Regions from separate parts of the Homo sapiens genome. Here region 2 is linked to region 1. The links come from fine-mapping of genetic effects on gene expression. A gene starts in region 1. The other region holds a variant in brackets. All regions are shown on one strand. Distances are between the middles of the regions. Region 1 holds the start of PDS5A (PDS5 cohesin associated factor A). Region 2 overlaps PDS5A (PDS5 cohesin associated factor A).

What was found. PIP is the estimated chance that this variant, and not a neighbour inherited with it, causes the effect. A credible set is the group of variants that fine-mapping cannot tell apart.
Region 2: its variant is the best candidate, but not a certain one, in a credible set for the expression of PDS5A in lung (TOPMed, PIP 0.60).

Annotation. Positions count from the first base shown.
Region 1 is chr4:39,972,070-39,981,910 of GRCh38, reverse strand. It overlaps PDS5A (PDS5 cohesin associated factor A), which reads left to right and starts at 4,000. Exons shown (of 33, transcript NM_001100399.2): 1 at 4,000-4,454; 2 at 5,294-5,471. The coding sequence starts at 5,334. It also overlaps the pseudogene PABPC1P1. RefSeq lists silencers at 3,776-4,415, 4,466-5,215 and an enhancer at 4,753-5,661.
Region 2 is chr4:39,890,121-39,899,961 of GRCh38, reverse strand. It overlaps PDS5A (PDS5 cohesin associated factor A), which reads left to right. Exons shown (of 33, transcript NM_001100399.2): 15 at 1,137-1,185; 16 at 1,434-1,573; 17 at 9,598-9,713. Among named protein-coding and RNA genes, the nearest start is that of PDS5A, 83 kb to the left of the region's middle. The variant C/T (reference allele first, on the strand shown) is at 4,878.

The sequences.
Region 1 (9,841 bases):
GGCCAGGCGCAGGGGCTCACACCTGTAATCTTAGCACTTTGGGAGGCCAAGGCGGGCGGATCACCTGAGGTCGGGAGTTCAAGAGCAGCCTGGCCAACATGGTGAAATCCCATCACACTAAAAATACAAAAAATTGCTGGGCATGGTGGTGCGTGCCTGTAATCACAGCTACTAGGGAAGCTGAGGCAAGAGAATCACTTGAACCTGGGAGGCAGAGGTTGCAGTGAGCCGAGACTGCAACACTGCACTCCAGCCTGGGCGACAGAAAAAAAAATTAAGTTATGTATTCCTCATAATGATCATGTGAGGAAGATACTATCATTATCCTTGTTTTACAGATGAAGAAAATGAGGCACAGAAGAATTAAGTGGTTTGACCAACATTGCCTAACTCAGGACATACATCATATCACCTCTTTGCTTAAAACAGTCCATTAGTTCCCCACCTCAATCAGAGGATAGCCACAGTCTTACCAGAGGTCTAAAAGGCTACATGTGATCTGTACTCTCTCTCACTCCAGGGAGTCTCACTCTGTCGCCCAGGCTGGAGTGCAGTGGTGCTTTCTCAGCTCGCTGCAACCTCCATCTCCCCGGTTCAAACGATTCTCCTGCCTCAGCCTTCTTAGTAGCTGGGATTACAGACATGTGCCAGTGCGCCTGCCTAATTTTTGTATTTTTAGTGGAGACAGGGTTTCACCATGTTGGTCAGGCTGGTCTGGAACTCCTGACCTCAGGTGATCCACCCACCTCGGCTTCCCAAAGTGCTGGGATTACAGTCCTGAGCCACCGTGCCTGAGCCACTGAGTCTAATTTTTTGTCTTTTTAATAGAGATGGGGTTTCACCATGCTGGCCAGGCTGGTCTGAAACTCGTGACCTCAAATAGTCTGCCTGCCTCCCCCTCCCAAAGTGCTGGGATTACAGGTGCGAGCCACCGTGCCCAACTCTTCCCTACTTTATTTTCATATACATGTATTATTGTTATTTTGGTCTATTTCTCCCCAAACAAATTAAGGTCCACCAGGAGGGCAGGCCTTCATTTGTGAAACAATTATTTAAAGAGGCCTATAATATAAGGCATTGTTTTGGGCACTGAGCGGGGAAGAAAAGCTTGGTGGAGGTTGGGTGCAGTGGCTCATGCCTGTAATTCCAGCACTTTGGGAGCCCAAGGTGGGTGGATCACCTAAGGTCAAGAGTTCGAGACCAGGCTGGCCAACATGGTAAAACCCTGTCTCTACTAAAAGTACAAAAATTAGCCAGGCGTGGTGGCGCATGCCTGTAGTCCCAGATCTTGGGAGGCTGACGCAGGAGATCTGCTTGAACCCAGGAGGCGTAGGTTGCAGTGCGCCCAGATTGTACCACTGCACTCCAGCCTGGGCAACAGAGCAAGACTTCGTCTCGAAAAAATAAAATAGGCCAGGCGCAGGGGCTCACACCTGTAATCCCAGCACTTTGGGAGGCCGAGGCGGGCAAATCACGAGGTCAGGAATTCGAGATCAGCCTGGCCAATATGGTGAAACTCCATCTCTACTAAAAATATAAAAATAAGCTGGGCGTGGTGGTGTACGCCTGTAGTCCCAGCTACTTGGGAGACTGAGGCAGATGAATCGCTTGAACCTGGGAGGCAGAGGTGAAGTGAACCGAGATCGCACCACTGCACTCAAGCCTGGTGATAGAGTGAGACTCCATGTTAAAAAAAAAAAAAAAGAAATCAACCAGTAAGGCCAGGCACGGTGGCTCAAGCCTGTAATCCCAGCACTTTGGGAGGGTGAGGCGGGCAGATTACCTGAGGTCAGGAGTTTGAGACCAGCCTGACCAACATGGTGAAACCCTGTCTCTACTAAAAATAACAAAAATTAGCCGGGCATAGTGGCGGGCGCCTGTAATCCCAGCTACTTGGGAGGGTGAGGCAGGAGAATTGCTTGAACCCAGAAGTCAGAGGTTGTAGTGAGCCAAGATCACACCACCACACTCCAGCCTGGGCGACAGAGGGAGACTCTGTCTCAAAAAAAAATTAGCCCGGTATGGTGGCACACACCTGTAGTCCCAACTACTTGGGGGCCTGAGGCACAAAAGTCGCTTGAACCTGGGAGGCGGATGCTGTAGTGAGCCGAGATCATGCCACTGCACTGCAGTCTGGGCGACAAAGTGAGACTTCATCTCAAAAAATAATAAAATAATATAAAAAATAAATAAAATAAAATATATGTACATATACAAAACTCCATTTAATAATGGGCAAGCTACTGAGGAGGATGAAAGATAAAATCATTGTTGTTTAATTAAATGTAACACACAAAGAAATATCAAATTTGGCCGGGCGCGGTGGCTCATGCCTGTAATCCCAGCACTCTGGGAGGCCGAGGCGGGCGGATCACTAGCTCAGGAGATCGAGACCATCCTGGCTAACATGGTGAAACCCCGTCTCTACTAAAAATACAAAAAAAAAAAATTAGCCGGGCGTGGTGGCGGGCGCCTGTAGTCCCAGCTACTCGGAAGACTGAGGCAGGAGAATGGCGTGAACCCGGGAGGCAGAGCTTGCAGTGAGCCGATATCACGCCACTGCACTCCAGCCTGGGTGACAGAGTAAGATTCCGTCTCAAAAGAAAAAAATAAATATCAAAAGTGACAGGGAGAGCCTAAAAAGAGAGCAGCTTTTGGTCCACTTAATAGTTTGGATGAGGACACTTTTAAATGGATTCTGCCTGGTACTGTAAATGCCCAAGAACAAAGCATTGACTTTTGGGCAGAGTTCTAGCAAATCAGCAACTGTGGAGTGTCAGATTCGCAATGACTGCTCTTGTGTAATACGTCAAAAACAAGTCAGTGAGCTGAAATGCAGTACCTTTACTATTTTTAAGTTGACGTTAAAGGATGTGGGAAAAAAATAGACCAATGGGTACCCATCAAGAATAATTTGAATAAACAATCGAATATCATTTTAAACTATGGTAGTGGTCAGTTTCAAGAGCTGAATGTGATTTCATATTATCGTATCCTTTTTTCAACTTTCTCTTCGGAAATTTTGTGTATGCTCTTGATTTTTTTTAAATAGGTAAGTGTATGTTCTTGCGTTAATTTGTTTCAATTACATACATTAAATTGCTCAAACACTGCTGCGTGCACTGTTTTTACCTGATAGTGGTTTTCCTTTGGATGACAGAAAACGTTAATGCTTGGTAGGTTTAAAACATTTTTAAAAAATGAGCTCTTCCTTATTTACAAGAATCACCCACCCAATTAATAAATGCTTATTTCTGGGTTCCACTCTCAGAGATTTTTATGTTTATGTATATTTTTATATTTTTTAGTGTTTTATTTTATATGTTATATTTTTATATGTTTTATGTTCATATATATTTTTACGTTAAAAAAACATATATTTTTATGTTTTTTAATCTTTGGAGTTGGAAACCTACGTTTTCAGCCAGTACCCAAAGTGATTGTGAGGCCTGGTGGCCCAAAGACCATACCTTGAGAACGACTCGACCCAATGCTATTTTCATGTTTTGCAGCTTTCAAAATATTAACTTCAGAAATCTAAGGAGGGTGGGCAACTCGGGTGGCTGTCAGAAGACCCGAGAGTGAGCCGCTCACGCTGCGCCCCATTGCACAACTTTCCTTGACTTTGCAGATCTCTCCCTGAGGAGGAAATCAGTTCATTTTCACCGAGCAATTAACTACCTCCCAACCAGTTTCGTCTATGTCCCTCAGGATGACCCCCAAAAGTCACCAGCTCATCGCCGCTGCGAAAGATAAAGCACTGTTTGCCCTGCGTGCCCTCGCAAGGCCGCGGGAACCTGGGCTCGCTTCCCGCCACCCGGGCTCCTCCTCCTCTCGCCCTCTCCGGTCGGGTCCTCCGGGAGGCGCCCCGCGCGGCAGGTATTGGCGCCAACCGGGTGGCGGCGCTGTCCGCCCTGCGCGCGGCCGCCTCGGGCCCGAGGGAGGCGGATGCACGGCCGGCGGAGGAAGGGGAGGGAGCGAGGAGCGCGCGCTGCTCTCGCGTGCTCTCGCGCCGCTCGCGTGACCGGCCGGTGTGTGCGCGAGGCCCCGGCTCCCGGGGCACGGACGGCCGGGCGCGCGCCTCTGCGAGGGGCGTCCGGGTCCGAGTCGGCGGTCCGGGCCGGCGCGAGGTGCGTGCGGGCGGGCCGCGGGGGTCCCGGACGGACACAAGCGCACACACTCCCGGAGGAGCCTTCGAGGCTGCTCTTCCTCGGCCAGACGGAGAGCGGCACTGTCTCCCCGCCCAGCGCTCACTCGCCCCGCGTCTCCCCCCGCGGCGGCTGCTCCTCCTCGGCACCGCCAGCCCCAGCGCCGCTCCCGGGCGGGCGGGCGGCGGCGGCGGCGGCGGCGGGACCCGCGGAGCCGCTTTGTGTGCAGCCCGACTAGGGGCGGCGGCGCAACCACCTGACAGAGGCCCGGGCGCTCGATGCACCTTCCGCCCGCATGAGGAGGAGGTAAAGGCGGCGGCGGCTCGGCTCCCGCCCTAGGCTGCTGGAGGGAGGGGACGGAAGGGGAGACTGGAGGGGGGGGCCGCGGGTCCGAGGCCCGGTGGGGCCGCCCGAGGGTGCCGGGAAGGCCTCGGCGGTGCCGGAGGCGCCAAGCGGCCGGGGGCCAGAGAAGCAGCTGGGGTCCCTCAGCCGAAGTTGAAGGAACAAAATGTGAAGTGCGGAGGCGCGTCAGCCGCTTCCTGGCGTGGGGCTGAGGGTGGAGGGCGGCTTGTTTTCCCCTCCCGCGGGGGTGAGGGAGCGGAACAGGGGAGGGGTGGCAGCGCGGCGGGGACTACCCCGGGTCCGAGGCTCGGCTGGGCAAGGGCGTTTTGTTCCCGGCAGCCGCCGCTGCGCGTGGGTCCGCTGGGTCCCTAGTTTTGCGGCCTAAGCCGAGCCCTATAGGCCTCGGGTCTGGTTTCCCGGAGGGGACTGGCCGGGCGGGACTGGGTGCTTCCCCACCGCCGAGCGGGGGCCTTGGGGTCCTTGCCGGCCTCCCGGGGCCGCCAAACTTCGGACCCTGGTGCTCGGGGGTGGATTTCATTGTGAAAGGCGGAATGGGAAACTCCTGGCGCTGTTCGGCGGCCACGGCGGCTGGTGCGGAGGAGCCCCGTGAGCCTGGGGCTGGCAGGGCCGGGTTGGCGGGGCCGGCGGGGTTCGATCCCTGGGAAAGAGCGGGTGGCGAGGCCGCTGCCGGGTCCCCGGCCTCTGGGGAGACAGGGCCTTTTCCAGATTAGAGAGATTTGAAATGAAAAAAGAGGTTACAAAGTCGCCCCTTTCCCGCTGAACTTTGGTTTTCTGACCGATAGAGGCCGGTAGAGGACTGTGAACCAAAAGTTGTCCCCCAGGATGGACTTCACCGCGCAGCCCAAGCCTGCCACTGCCCTCTGTGGCGTCGTGAGTGCCGACGGGAAGATCGCTTACCCTCCGGGGGTAAAAGAGATCACCGACAAGATCACCACGGACGAGATGATCAAACGCCTGAAGGTAAGTGTCTGGACGGATTTTGATGTCTTTGGTAGAAGGCGCTTTCTCCTGTGATACTGCTACCCTGCTCAGTCTGGCCTTTAAAGTTCCAAGTTTTTTAGATCTCTTACCCCCTCTGAAAGGTACTGTTGTATCTCAGATAACATCTTTGAGTGAGTTTTGTAGGGATATAACCATTGTGGGAAATTTAAAAGGAGTGTGATTTTTCAAAAACTTACTGGTTTTCAAGCATAAGAATTTGTGTTTTTAGAGTTTTTTCTGGAGGTATTTAATGAGAATACTGTTCAGAGTGGCTTGCAAACTTAGGTGTAGGCAGTAATTTGCCTAAGAAGTTTACTATTTTCAGCTTCTGAAGGGGATTGATTAAAGCGCAAAGTCCTTTTTAAAAATTTGCATAATTTTCTATATCCAGAAGCTTAAATATGTATATATGGTGGTTAAACTTTGACAGAAGGTACAGACTTTTCATAATTCAGGCTTAAAGTAAGATGATTTAAGTCTATACGTTCAAAGGAGTTTAAGAGTATTATGGCCCTTTTTATGAGGTGTCAGCTAATTTTGTTTAAGCATGGCAGTCCTAAGGTTAAGGTTTTAAATTTCAACCTCATGTTTGTTAGTTTTTTTGGTTTCTGTTCCACTGACATAGATTGTGGCCAGAATCTTAACAAATAAGTAATATTCTTCTTGTAGGAACAGCTTGAAGCAGTGGTTCTGAGTCAGGGCAACTTTGACCTCCAGGAGATGTTTGGCAATGCTGGAGACATTTTGGTTGTCACAATTGGTGCTAGATTGGAGTAGGGGAAGACCAGAGGCAGTGAGTCCGGCTAGGAAACTGTAAACAGTAGTCTAGGTGAAAGACGTTGAAATCTTCAGGTAGGGCTATGGCATTGGTAATAGTGACTAGGAAATGATTTAACAACTTTTCAGAGTTAGAATCAATCAGAATTGGTGGGAGGTGAGGGAAGCAACATTGTTGACAATGTTTCCACCTTGGGCCACTTGGCCAAATGTATTTTAGGGAATGAGCTTGGCCTCTTGCTCTTGGAGCCCAGTAAATGTACCTAATGTTGCATTTTAATGAGTACAGTATTTAAAATATTCCTGTGGTTTAGTTTTCAGACTCTTAATTTGGTTCTGCAATTTGTTGCCTTTTTGGAAGGAATAAGACAACAGTTCCTTTCATTAAAACAAATCTGTGTGCGGCGGCGGGATCTCAGCTCACTGCAACCTCCACTTCCCAGGTTCAAGCTATTCTGCCTCAGCCTCCCAAGTAGCTGGGACTACCAGCGTGTGCCACCACACCCGGCTAAATTTTTTTTTTTTTTTTTTTTTTGAGACGGAGTCTTGCTCTGTCACCTAGGCTGGAGTGCAGTGGCGCGTCTCGGCCCACTGCAACCTCCACCTCCCGGGTTCAAGCAATTCTGCCTCAGCCTCTCTAGTAGCTGGGATTACAGGTGCCTGCCACCACGCCCAGCTAATTTTTGTATTTTTAGTAGAGATGGGATTTCACTATGTTGGTCACTTTGGTCTCGATCTCCTGACTTCGAATGATCTGCCTGCATCGGCCTCCCAATATGCTGCGATTACAGGTGTGAGCCACTGCTCCCAGCCCCTTTCATTAAAACAAATCTTGGGCCTGGTGTGGTGGCTCCAGCCTGTAATCCCAGCACTTCGGGAGGCCGAGGCAGGCAAATCACCCGAGGTCTGGAGTTCTACTAAAAATACAAAATTAGCTGGGCGTGGTGGCGCATACCTGTAATCCTAGCTACTGGGAGGCTGAGGCAGGAGAATCGCTTGAACCCGGGAGGCGGAAGTTTTGATGAGCGGAGATCGCGCCATTGCACTCCAGCCTGGGCAACAGGAGTGAAACTTCATCTCAAAAAAGTAAAATAAAATAAATAAAGCAAATATTGATACTAAAGATTATACATGAATTGAGCTGCTTGATTGATGCTTCTAAAAGTTACACTGTTTTGGGAGTGAGAAATTATGAAATATAAAACTTAAACAATTGATGGATCGTTAATATTTATTGTTTTCAAATTAAGAATATTGAAACCTTGAATTCTAATGTTGGATAATTTGGTTAAAAAATGGAAAGTTGATGTGTTAGCAACCGCTCTGTTGACATGACTCATGGAACCTGTGAAGAAGCTGGTCTCATAGTATTAAGTGGTGGTATAGGAGCAGCTTGGGGATAGCACCTGGCATATTGGAATGGATGAGGTCTGGCACCCTGAGCAGTCCAGCGAGGACTTGGTCTCAGTAGAGCAGTTTGGCTAGGAGGAGAGTATGCAGCACGGTTTTTATTTATTTTTGAGACAGAGTCTCGCTCTGTCGCCCAGGCTGGAGTGGGTGCGATCTCGGCTCACTGTAAGCTCCGCCTCCCGGGTTCACGCCATTCTCCTGCCTCAGCCTCCCGAGTAGCTGGGACCACGGGCGCCCGCCATCATGCCCGGCTAATTTTTTGTATTTTTTTAGTAGAGACGGGTTTCACCGTGTTAGCCAGGATGGTCTCGATCTCCTGACCTCGTGATCTGCCCCTCTTGGCCTCCCAAAGTGCTGGGATTACAGGCGTGAGCCACCGCGCCCGGTCTTGCAGCACGGTTCTGAGTCTGTGGAATAGCTGCCATGAAGTAACCTGAAGGAGGTGCTGGCTGGTAGGGGTTGATTACATGGTTGGGCACAGCTCGTACACTTGCCATTCTCTGCATATGCTGGTTAGTGAAGTGAGCCTGGCACTCTTCTTTGCGCTGAGCTAAAGCTACATACGATGGTTTTGTGGCCACAGTTCTACCGTTCATTTCTGTAACTGCTTTAGTGGCTTCTTCCGGGAAGGAGAAACATACGAAACCAAACCCTTTGCTGTGACCACCCTCCATCATAGCCTTTGCACTAGTGATTGTACCAAATGGAGAAAACTCTTTCTGGAGACGTTCATCATCAATACTATCATCAAGATTTTTCACGTAAATATTAACACCCTGGTATCTGCTGGCTGCAGCTACTCCTGCTGTCCACACCGTTCCACAGTATAAATATGCTGCGGGAGTTCGCAATCCTCAGCAACATCTTAATGCACAGCCACAAGTTACAATGCAACAGCCTGCTGTTCATGTACAAGGTCAGGAACCTTTGACTGCTTCCATGTTGGCATCTGCCCCTCAAGAGCAAAAGCAAATGTTCATATGCTCGAGAGTCCAGAGTCACTCTGTTCTAAGGTTCATGAAGCTAGCTATATTACAAGCCCACCAAGCTAAAGAGGCTACCCAGAAAGCAGTTAACAGTGCCATTGGTGTTCCTGCTGTTTAAAATTGATCAGAGACCACGAAAAGAAACTTGTGCTTCACCAAAGAAAAATATCTAAACATCGAAAAACTTAAATATGGAAAAAAAAATTGCAAAATATAAAATAAATTTAAAAAGGAAAGGAAACTTTGAACATTATGTACCGAGCAAATGCCAGGTCTAGCAAACATAATATTAGTCCTAGATTACTTATTGATTTAAAAACAAACAACAAAAAAAACCCCACAAAAAATAATAAAATATAAAGACAAATTAATGTTTTATAGATCCTGGGAAAAATAATTTTCAGCAAAGTACAAAAATTTAAAGCATTCCTTGTAATCTTTACTGTGGAATAGCTCAAAATATCAGTTCTGTTTTAAGTAACAGAATTGATAACTGAGCAAGGAAGCGTAATTTGGATTATAAAATTCTTTTTTTAATAAAAAATTCCTTAAACAGTGAAAAAAAAAAAAAGGAAAGTTGTGGTTGGGTACAGGGGCTCATGCCTGTAATCCCAGCATTTTGAGGGCTGAGGCAGGAGGATCATTTGAGCCCAGGAGGTTCAGACCTGGGCAACATAGACCCTGTCTCAATTTTATTTTTATTTTTTATTTATTTATTTATTTTTTGAGACGGAGTCTCGCCCTGTCGCCCAGGCTGGAATGCAGTGGTGCAATCTTGGCTCACTGCAAACTCCGCCTCCCGGGTTCAAGCGATTCTCCTGCCCCAGCCTCCCAAGTAGCTGGGATTAGAGGTGCGTGCCACTATGCCCAGCTAATTTTTGTATTTTTAGTAGAGACGGAGTTTCACTATGTTGGTCAGGCTGGTCTCGAACTCTTGACCTCGTGATCCGCCCACCTCGGCCTCCCAAAGTGCTGGGATTACAGGCGTGAGCCACCGCGCCCAGCCAACCGTGTCTCAATATTATTTTTTTAAGGTGTGTTGGGAAAGTTATGACTACTTATGTACATTTTCTGTTTGAAAATCGATTATCAGAAGTACTGTTAACTATAAATGGACATACAATCCAGTGGAGAATGAGCATCGAGTTTGATTATCCATTTGTTATGAGTTCTTTT
Region 2 (9,841 bases), 82 kb after region 1:
CTAGAATAGGTGTTCTTAACCAGGGGACCATATAAACAGACCCCTCAAGGACACATGGATGCTGGAACAGGGGCGGGCAAACTTTTTTTTTTTTTTTTTTTTTTTTTTTTAATACACAGGATCTTACTCTGTTGCCCAGGCTGTCGCATAGTGGCATGATCACAGCTCACTGCAGCCTCGATGTCACTGGGCTGAGGTGATCCTCCCACCTCAGCCTTCTGAATAGCTGGGACTACGGGTGTGCTCCACCATACCCAGCTAGGTTTTGTATGTTTTTTGTAGAGGTGAGTTTTCACCATGTTTCCCAGGCTGGTCTCAAAATCTTGGGCTCATGCAGTCTGCCTGCCTAGGCCTCCCAAATTGCTAGGATTACAGGTGTGAGATACTGCACCTAGCCTAGCAAACTTTGAAAATAAATCAACAGATAGCAAAAACATATTTTGCAAGGCATAGAGTCTGTGGTCAGATATTCAACCCTGCCTTTGCAAAATTAGTCATACACGATAAATAAATGAATGGACATGACTATATTCCATCGAAACTACTAACAAAAACAGGTAGCTCATGGGGGCATAGTTTTCTAACTTTTGAACTAAATTATTCAAATTTAGTATAAATGAAAACTAATAAGTAATGTTTTATGGGATACAGGAAAGGGAAGTACGTTTTAGAAAGGAGGTTTTCCTGAAGGTATTTAAGTAACGGGCCACAAAGTAGCTAACAGAACTCTATTGCAGAAAAAAAAGTTTCTTCTCTATATTTTTAGTTAATTTTTTGTGGCATGTAGTTTCATAGTAATTCTGATATGATAAGTTTATATGTTGATTGCTTCATTGATCTTTTTTCAATCTTCTGGCAATGTAACTTTCCTGTGAAAGTTATATACTTGTGGGTTTTTAAGTACCTTCCTCCCAACATCTCCTTTCCTTCTATTTGTCTTAATAGTTGCTACTATGTAATTCTTTGTTGTTAGTTTAGCGTATATATGTGGTAAAACCATTTTCCATTGAGCAGACTGTGATGAACTTTATTTTTTAACGTCATGAAAAATGTACAGTAATGAGTATTGATTTTTGTTAGGGAAATTTGTTAACACATATGACTAGTTGTTCTTTTGTTTCTGTTTTAAATTTCAGTCAGAGGCTAACTGTTCTGCCATGTTTGGAAAACTGATGACCATAGCAAGTGAGTATGTTTATTTACTCACTAAACATGTAGTAAACGTAAATGCAGACAAAGTATTTACCCAGTGGGACTACTGATTTAATGTTAAGTAAAAGAAAATAATCTTTATCTTAATTTTGTTTCTAAGAACCAGCTAGGCTGATTTTCTTTTAGTGGCTCCGCAATATTTTGATGGCACCTGTTTTTAGCTTAGTAGAATAGTTTTTTTTTTTTCCTTCTCTAATATTGATTCTCTTTTAATTTTATAGAGAATTTGCCTGACCCCGGGAAAGCACAAGATTTTGTGAAGAAATTTAACCAGGTTCTCGGCGATGATGAGAAACTTCGGTCTCAGTTGGAGTTATTAATTAGCCCAACCTGTTCTTGCAAACAAGCAGATATTTGTGTGGTTAGTAAATCATACTTCACACTTTTTCTCTAGCTTTACTTACAGAAATATGTATTTTATTAAAGCCTGTTTTACATACAGTGATTTGTGTAAATGTAACAATATTGTGAGCTCTGAATTACTTTGGAGTATATCTATTGTCAAGTTAATTCTCTATTTACCATTCACTCTCAGCCACATTCCAGGAAAATAACTAAAGAACTAAGCCAGGGAGATTGGTCTTAGGAATTTTACAAGATAAAGTACTTTGAACTTAGTAGACATTCATTGAGTAATGATAAGTATTTTCTGAATGCTTGTGTACATGTGCATTTTCTTCTTTCATGTATTAGAATGGAAATAATCGTCAATAAATTAGTAGTAGTAACATTGCCATATATCTGGTTTCATTTACAGATAAAGTAAATTCCTATCTAGACTTTTGTCTTCATTCTTCTCTTGAACTCATTTAAAACCAATATTCTTAAAGCTATCAGGAGGGAAAACTTATGCATTCATTTATTCAGCTTTTTTTTTTTTTTTCCTGAGATAGTCTTGCTTTTGTCACCCAGGCTGGAGTTCAGTGGCACAATCATAGTTCACTACAGCGTTAAAGTCCTGTGCTCATGTGATCCTATACCCCAGCCTTCTGAATAGCTAGAACTATTGGCACACGCATCCACACCCAGCTAAGTTTTTAAATTTTTTGGAGGCCATGCACATTGGCTCACACCTGTAATCCCAGCACCTTGGGAGTCCAAGGCGTGTGGATCACCTGAGGTTGGGAGTTCGAGACCAGCCTAGCCAACTTGGTGAAACCCCATCTCTACTAAAAATACAGAAATTTGCCAGGTGTGGTGGTACATGCCTGTAATCTGAGCTACTCAAGAGGCTGAGACAGGAGAATTGCTTGAACTCGGGAGGTGGAGGTTGTAGTGAGCCGAGATCATGCCACTGCACACCAGCCTGAGTGACAGAATGAGACTGTCTCAAGAAAAGGAAAAAATAAAAATTTTTGTCTCTGTGTTGCCCAGGGTGGTCTCAAACTCCTTCAAGTGATTATCTCACCTCACTGCAACCTCCACCTCCTGGGTTCAGACGATTCTTGTGCCTCAGCCTTCCGAGTAGCTGAGATTACAGGCATGAGCCATCACATCTGGCTAATTTTTTGTATTATTAGTAGAGGTAGGTTTTCACCATGTTGGCCAGGCTGATCTTGAACTCCTTACCTCAGGTGATCCACCCACCTCGGCCTCCCAAAGTGCTGGGGTTACAGGCATGAGCCACACACCCAGGCAAAAGATTCTTGATGTATCTAAAATGGTATACTGCATGACAACATTTTGGCCAAAGATAAGACCACATGTATTTTGGGAGTCCCATAATATTATAACAGAACTCAGGGTGATGGGTGTAGCAAACTACCATGACACATGTATACCTGTGTAACAAACCTGCACATTGTGCACATGTATCCCATAACTTAAAGCATTAAAAAAAAAAAAAGATTATAACGGAACTGAAGGATTCCTATCACCTAGTGACATCTTGGTGATCCTGACCTGGCGTAGGCCTAGGCTATTGTATGTGGTTGTATCTTAGTTTTGCACAAAAAAAAGTTTTAAAACTTTCTTTTTTTTTTTTTAAACAGGGTTTTGCTCTGTCACCCAGACTGGAGTTCAGTGATGTTATCATGGCCCACTGCATCCTCAGCCTCCTGGGTTCACGTGATCCTCTCCCTTCAATCTCCTGAGTAGCTGGGACTATAGGCACATGCCACCATGCCCAGCTAATTTTTTATTTTTTGTAGAGACAGGGTTTCTCCATGTTGTCCAAGCTGGTCTGGAACTCCTGAGCTGAAGAAACCTACCTGCCTCAGCCCCACAAAATATTGGGATTACAGGTGTGAGCCACCACATGCAGCCAAAAAAATTTTTAATAGGAAGAAGCTAGTAGAATAAGGATATAAGGAAAGAAACCATTTTGTGTACAGCTGTACACAAAATGTGTTTTAAGCTAAGTGTTACTACAAAAGAGTCAAAAAGCTAAAAAAAAAAAAAAAAAAGATCAGTACATTGGCTCACACCTGTAATCTCAGCACTTTGGGAGGCCTAGGCAGGAGGATCACTTGAAGCCAGGAATTTGAGACCAACCTGGGCAATATATCAAAACCCCCGCCTCTACAAAACATTAAAGAAAACTAGCTGCACATGGTGGCGCACACCTGTAGTCCTGACTACTCCAGAGGCCAAGATGGGAGGATCACTTGAGCCCAGGATTTTAAGCCTACAGTGAGCTATGGTCACACCACTGCATTCCAGCCTGGGTGACAGAACAAGATCCTGTCTCCAAAAATTTTTTTAAAAGCTAAAAAAAAAAAAAACCGGGCCAGGTGTGGTGGCTCACACCTGTAATCCCAGCACTTTGGGAGGCCGAGGTTGGCAGATCATGAGGTCGGGAGATCGAGACCATCCTGGCTAACACGGTGAGACCCCGTCTCTACTAAAAATACAAAAAAAAAAAAATTAGCTGAGCATGGTGGCGGGCGCCTGTAGTCCCAGCTACTCTGGAGGCTGAGGCAGGAGAATGGTGTGAACCTGGGAGGCGGAGCTTGTAATGAGCTGAGATCATGCCACTGCACTCCAGCCTGGGCGACAGAGCGAGACTCTGTCTCAAAAACAAACAATCAAACAAAAACAAACCCTTGAAGTTCATCAAGTAAAAATATTACAAAAAGCTAAGGATAATTTATCATTGAAGAAAGAAAAAGTGTTTAAATATCGTGCTGCCTAAGTGTACAGTGTTTATAAAGTCTACAGTAGTGTACTGTAATGTCCTGTTTCTTCACATTCACTCACCACTTACTCACTGACTTACCCAGATCAACTTGCAGTCCTGTAAGCTTCATTTATGGTAAGTGCTCTATATGTAGGTGTACTGTTTTTTATCTTTTATATGGCATTTTTATTATATGGTTTATATTGTGTTTTTATCTTTTATATTTTTACCCTGTGTTTAGATAATGTTCAAATACACAAATACCACTGTGTTACAGTTCCCTACAGTATTTAGCATAGTAACATGCTGTACAATTTTGTAGCATAGAAGTAGTACGCTATACCATTTAGGTTTGTGTGCGTGCACTCTAATGTTCACATGATGAAATTGCCTTAACAACACATTTCTCTTTTTTTTTTTTTTTTTTTTTTTGAGACGGAGTCTCACTGTCGCCCAAGCTGGAGTGCAGTGGCGCGATCTTGGCTCACTGCGTTCTCTTGCCTCAGCCTCCCGAGTAGCTGGGACTACAGGCTCCTGCCACCTCGCC[C/T]GGCTAATTTTTTGTATTTTTAGTAGAGACGCGGTTTCACCATGTTAGCCAGGATGATCTCGATCTCCTGACCTCGTGATCCGCCCGCCTCGGCCTCCCAAAGTGCTGGGATTACAGGTGTGAGCCACCGTGCCTGGCCAACAACACATTTCTCAAAATCTGTCTCCACCATTGAGTGATGGATAATTCTTTGTGTGTGTGGGCAGGGGGAGGGTATGTATTTCTCTGTATAAGGGCCCTGCACTGCCCTATTGGATTTAAATAAATAATCCTTCTCACAATGTTAGACATAAACGTCAAGTACTATGCTTGGGACCAGGCTTATAGAGACAAATAAGAGAAATGTAATTTCAATTACATATGTCTAACTTTGTTCTAGAAGGGATTAGAGTTGATGGTTTTAAAATAACTTATAAAGGATAAGGACTATAATAGATGTATATGTGGAGAGGTCTAGCTGCATAGAACATGTATCTTTTATTCAGCATAGAGATCTGAATACCATTACAAATACCAATAATTAGGAGGACATGGGGAGGAAAACCAATTTAGGGAAGAGAAGAGTGGGCTTGTCTCTCAGGGCTATGAATGTGGATGTGCCAAATGCCCAGACAACCTCAACCTTTGCACTTCTTTTTTAAATTTTATTTACTTACTTATTTTTTTCTTTTTTTTTTGAGATAGGGTCTTGCTCTGTCACCCAGGCTGGAGTGTAATGACACAATCTCAGCTCACCGTAACCTCTGCATCTAGGGCTCAAATGATCCTCCTGCCTCAGCCTCCCAAGTAGCTGGGATTACAGGCATGCGCCATCATGCCTGACTAATTTTTGTATTTTTAGTAGAGATGAGATTTCACCATGTTGCCCAGGCTGGTCTTGAACTCTTGGACTCAAGTGATCCTACCCACCTTGGCCTCCCAAAGTAGTGGGATTACAGGCATGATCCACCATGCCCAATAAGCTTTGTACTTCTGAGCTGAGTAATTTGCTGAAAACGCTTAAAAGTTTCATTGACTTCTTTGGCATTTAGAATTCTAGTTCCAGAGTACTGTGTCCTGCAGAGAATCTACTATTATAATTAGATCAGACAATGAAATAGCTTGAAAAGGCTGGGCGCGGTGGCTCACTGTTGTAATCCCAACACTGTGACTGCAACAGCCACACAGTATAGCCAATCAGTGCTCTTGATATTAGGAACCAGTGAGGTAGAAATGAATACTGCACTTGCAGTGGTAAGAGCATGAGTTCATTATACCTTCTTTCCTAGCTCTTATATTAGCATTGTGTGACTTGAGTATGTTATTTAACTATGTGTTCTCATACGTAAAGTGGGACTTAGAATACCTCCCTTAGGCACACATGAAAACAAACCTCTGCTAGAGTACCTTTATGAGTTTGTCCTTTCCCCTATGGGCTACTGAATATTATTTACATATTTCCTCTAATATCCCCATTCCTTTTCTGATGTAGAAGAATAAAGAAAAATAATGCAAATGTAAAATTTAGTTTCTCTCATTCTATGTAGCTTGCATTCCATCCTTGAGAGTTCCTTCTCTGTACCCTAATGCGTATTTGTCACTACCTCCTTATTTTCATATCTCACTTCTCAAGAGGTAGATATTACTTGATACGAGAGTTAGTAGGCATAGAAATCTAATATTTTCTTCCCTCTTTGTCCAAGTTCCATTTCTGAAAAATCTTAGCAAACATACTTTGAGCAAAGATTATCAAAAGAGACGTGTATTTGTGTGTGGGGTGGGGGATATAATGAATGAGAGTGAGCAGTGGAATTGAAATGTGATATATAGATTTACTTTCCCTTTAGAATTCAGGTTTTAGGTTTCTACACCTTGACCCTAGAGAAGGACCACATACTTGCCATAGCTTCAGCTGTGCGTCATAGTTTATGCTCCATTGCCCCCCTCCCCATGAGAGTGGTCCCCAAATTTTAATATTTTCCAGGAAGCTTGTTTATTTGACATTTAATGAAACAGTCCTTGGTTTGAATATCGTTTACTACCAGTATGACCTTTAGTAAGTTACTCAGTATTTTCAAGCCTCCTTATTCATTTTCTTCACCTATAAATATTATCAACCTCATAGAATTTTTAAAAGAATAATGTAAAATGAAATTTTATATGTGGCCTAATGCAGGGCCCCCCTGCACTGCCTACAGGGTTTCAATAAATGGTCATTTTTATAGGTCTTACCCTTACAAAGAGTAGGCATCTTTAAAATAGGTTATGATGTAGCATCATGAATCTCTCCATCTTTTAACCAAGTTTCAACATGAGTGGTTTATGGACTACACTTTTAAAAACCCTCCTCTACCTAGTTACCTGGATATGCATTATATCTTCAGAAGTCCAAATATCTTCTTTCTTGATCAAGCACACACTGTTATAATTCACTGCATGATTAAATAAATTTTATAATACATGGTTTCTCATGGAGCTTGCAGAATAAGTGACAGAGGCTGACAAATATTTCCATTGAATTGTGTGCTTTGGTAAAATAAAGAAGCATTACTCATTCCAGGCAGGGGTGGAAATAGGTCCAGGAATGGCTTCTTCTAGAATAAGTGACTCCTAAGTTGAGTCTTAAAGGATGAATAGGAATTAGACCATTGTGTGAAGAATGACTGCTATATTTTCAGTTTGGCTGACTGGATATCAGAGGAGATGCTTTAGGGAAGAAGATAGCGTCTTTGCAGTTGTGTTCAGAAGTGTTGGGATTCAGGCCTGGTTCTATATATTAGCACAATTACATCACTTGGAGGAGGTAGAGAAGAAATGAAAGAGAAGACAAATCTGAGAATGGCCTCTGAGAATGGTCAGGCTGGTCTCAAAACTCCTGACCTCAAACGATCCGTCACCTCGGCCTCCCAAAGTGCTGGGATTATAGGCATGAGCCACTGCACCCGGCCTAATACCATAATCTTTGAGCTTAAATGGATAGTTAACTTTTTTTTGTTTTTTGTTTTTTGTTTTGAGACAGAGTCTGTGCAGCTGTGCAATCTCAGGTGGTCACTGCAACCTCTGCCTACCAGGCTCAAGTGATCCCCCCCACCTCAGCCTCCTGAGTAGCTGGGACCCCAGGCATGCACCATCACGCCTGGCTAATTTTTTGTATTTTTTGGTAGAAACAGGGTTTTGCCATGTTTTCCAGACTGGTGTCAAACTCTTGAGCTCAGGCAATCCACCTGCCTTGGCCTCCCAAAGTGCTTTGATTACAGGCATGAGCCACTGCTCCTGGCTGAGAGTTACTTTTATTATTGGGGTTATCTATCAGCCTTCCATAACTGTATGTCTAACTTATAAATAAAATTCTAAGGGTGTACAGAGTTCTCATTTATCCTCCACCTATGTTCTTCCAGAACTGAAAAATTTTGCAAGTATATATATATATATGTACGAATATGTGTTTCTGTTTCTTTTGAGATGGAGTTGCTCTTGTTCCCCAGGCTGGAGTGCAATGGCACGATCTCAGCTCACCGCAGCCTCCGCCTCCCAGGTTCAAGCAATTCTCCTGCCTCAGCCTCCCGAGTAGCTGGGATTACAGGCATGCGCCACCAAGCCCGGCTGATTTTGTATTTTTAATAGAGATGGGGTTTCTCCATGTTGGTCAGGCTGGTCTCGAACTCCTGACCTCAGGTGATCCGCCCGCCTCAGCCTCCCAAAGTGCTGGGATTACAGGCGTGAGCCACCTGCGCCCGGCCTGAATATGTATTTTTTAAGAAACAAATTAACTGGCCAGGCACAGTGGCTCATGCCTATAATCCCAGCATTTTGGGAGGCCGAGGCGGGTTGGATCACCTGAGTTCGGGAGTTCGAGACCAGCCTGGCCAACATGACGAAACCCCATGTCTACTAAAAATATAAAATTAGCCGGGCATGGTGGCGTGCATGTTTAAACCCAGCTGCTATGGAGGCTGAGGCAGGAGAGTTGTTTGAACCTGGGAAGCGGAGGTTGCAGTGAGCCAAGATTGCACCATTGCATTCCAGCCTGAGTGACTGACAGAGCGAGACTCCAGCTCAAAAAAAAAAATAACTGAAACAAAACACAATGTTCTGTCAAATTATGAAATAATTAAAACCAATAAAGCATACCCATAAAAGTACAAATTGTTTTTATTCTAAATTAGAGTATTAAAAAGGTTGCCATAGTCCAGGTGTGTGGTGGCTCACGCCTGTAATCCCAGCACTTTGGGAGGTCGAGGCAGGTGGATCACTTGAGGTCAGGAGTTCAAGACCAGCCTGGCCAACATGGTGAAGCCCCGTCTCTACAAAAATAACAAAAATTAGCTGGGCATGGAGGCACGTGCCTGTAATCCCAGCTACTCTGGAGCCTGAGGCAGGAGAATCATTTGAACCCAGGAGGTGGAGGTTGCAGTGAGCCGAGATCGTGCCACTGCACTGTAGCCTGGTGACAGAGTTAGACTCGTCTCAAAAAAAAAAAAGTTGCTATATCAACCAATAATTTCATCAAAGAATTGTGAGGCAAGGCTGTGTTCACTCAGAAACCACATCATCCACTTCTTTTCTCTGCTGTCCAGATTTTTCAGTCATTGCTCGGGGTGTAAAAATTTTAGTCAGGGTCTAGAGCAGACAATTCTTAACCACTTATGCTGGTTTTGAATATTTCAGTTCCTTAGTCATTTTTCTTTTCAAAAATATGAAAGCAAATCACGTTTTTGGTAAAACTCCTTTCTTTCTATAGAGAGAAATAGCCCGGAAACTTGCAAATCCTAAGCAACCAACAAATCCTTTTCTAGAGATGGTCAAATTTCTGTTGGAAAGAATCGCACCTGTGCACATTGATTCAGAAGCCATAAGGTAAGCCAAGAAGTATATTCGCTCAAAAATAAATAATAATCTGCAACGACAATGTTGTTAATTTAAATTCTGGGCTCCTAAAGATACCTGAAAACCTCTGTATGTCTCTTTTTAATCACAGGGTTGTA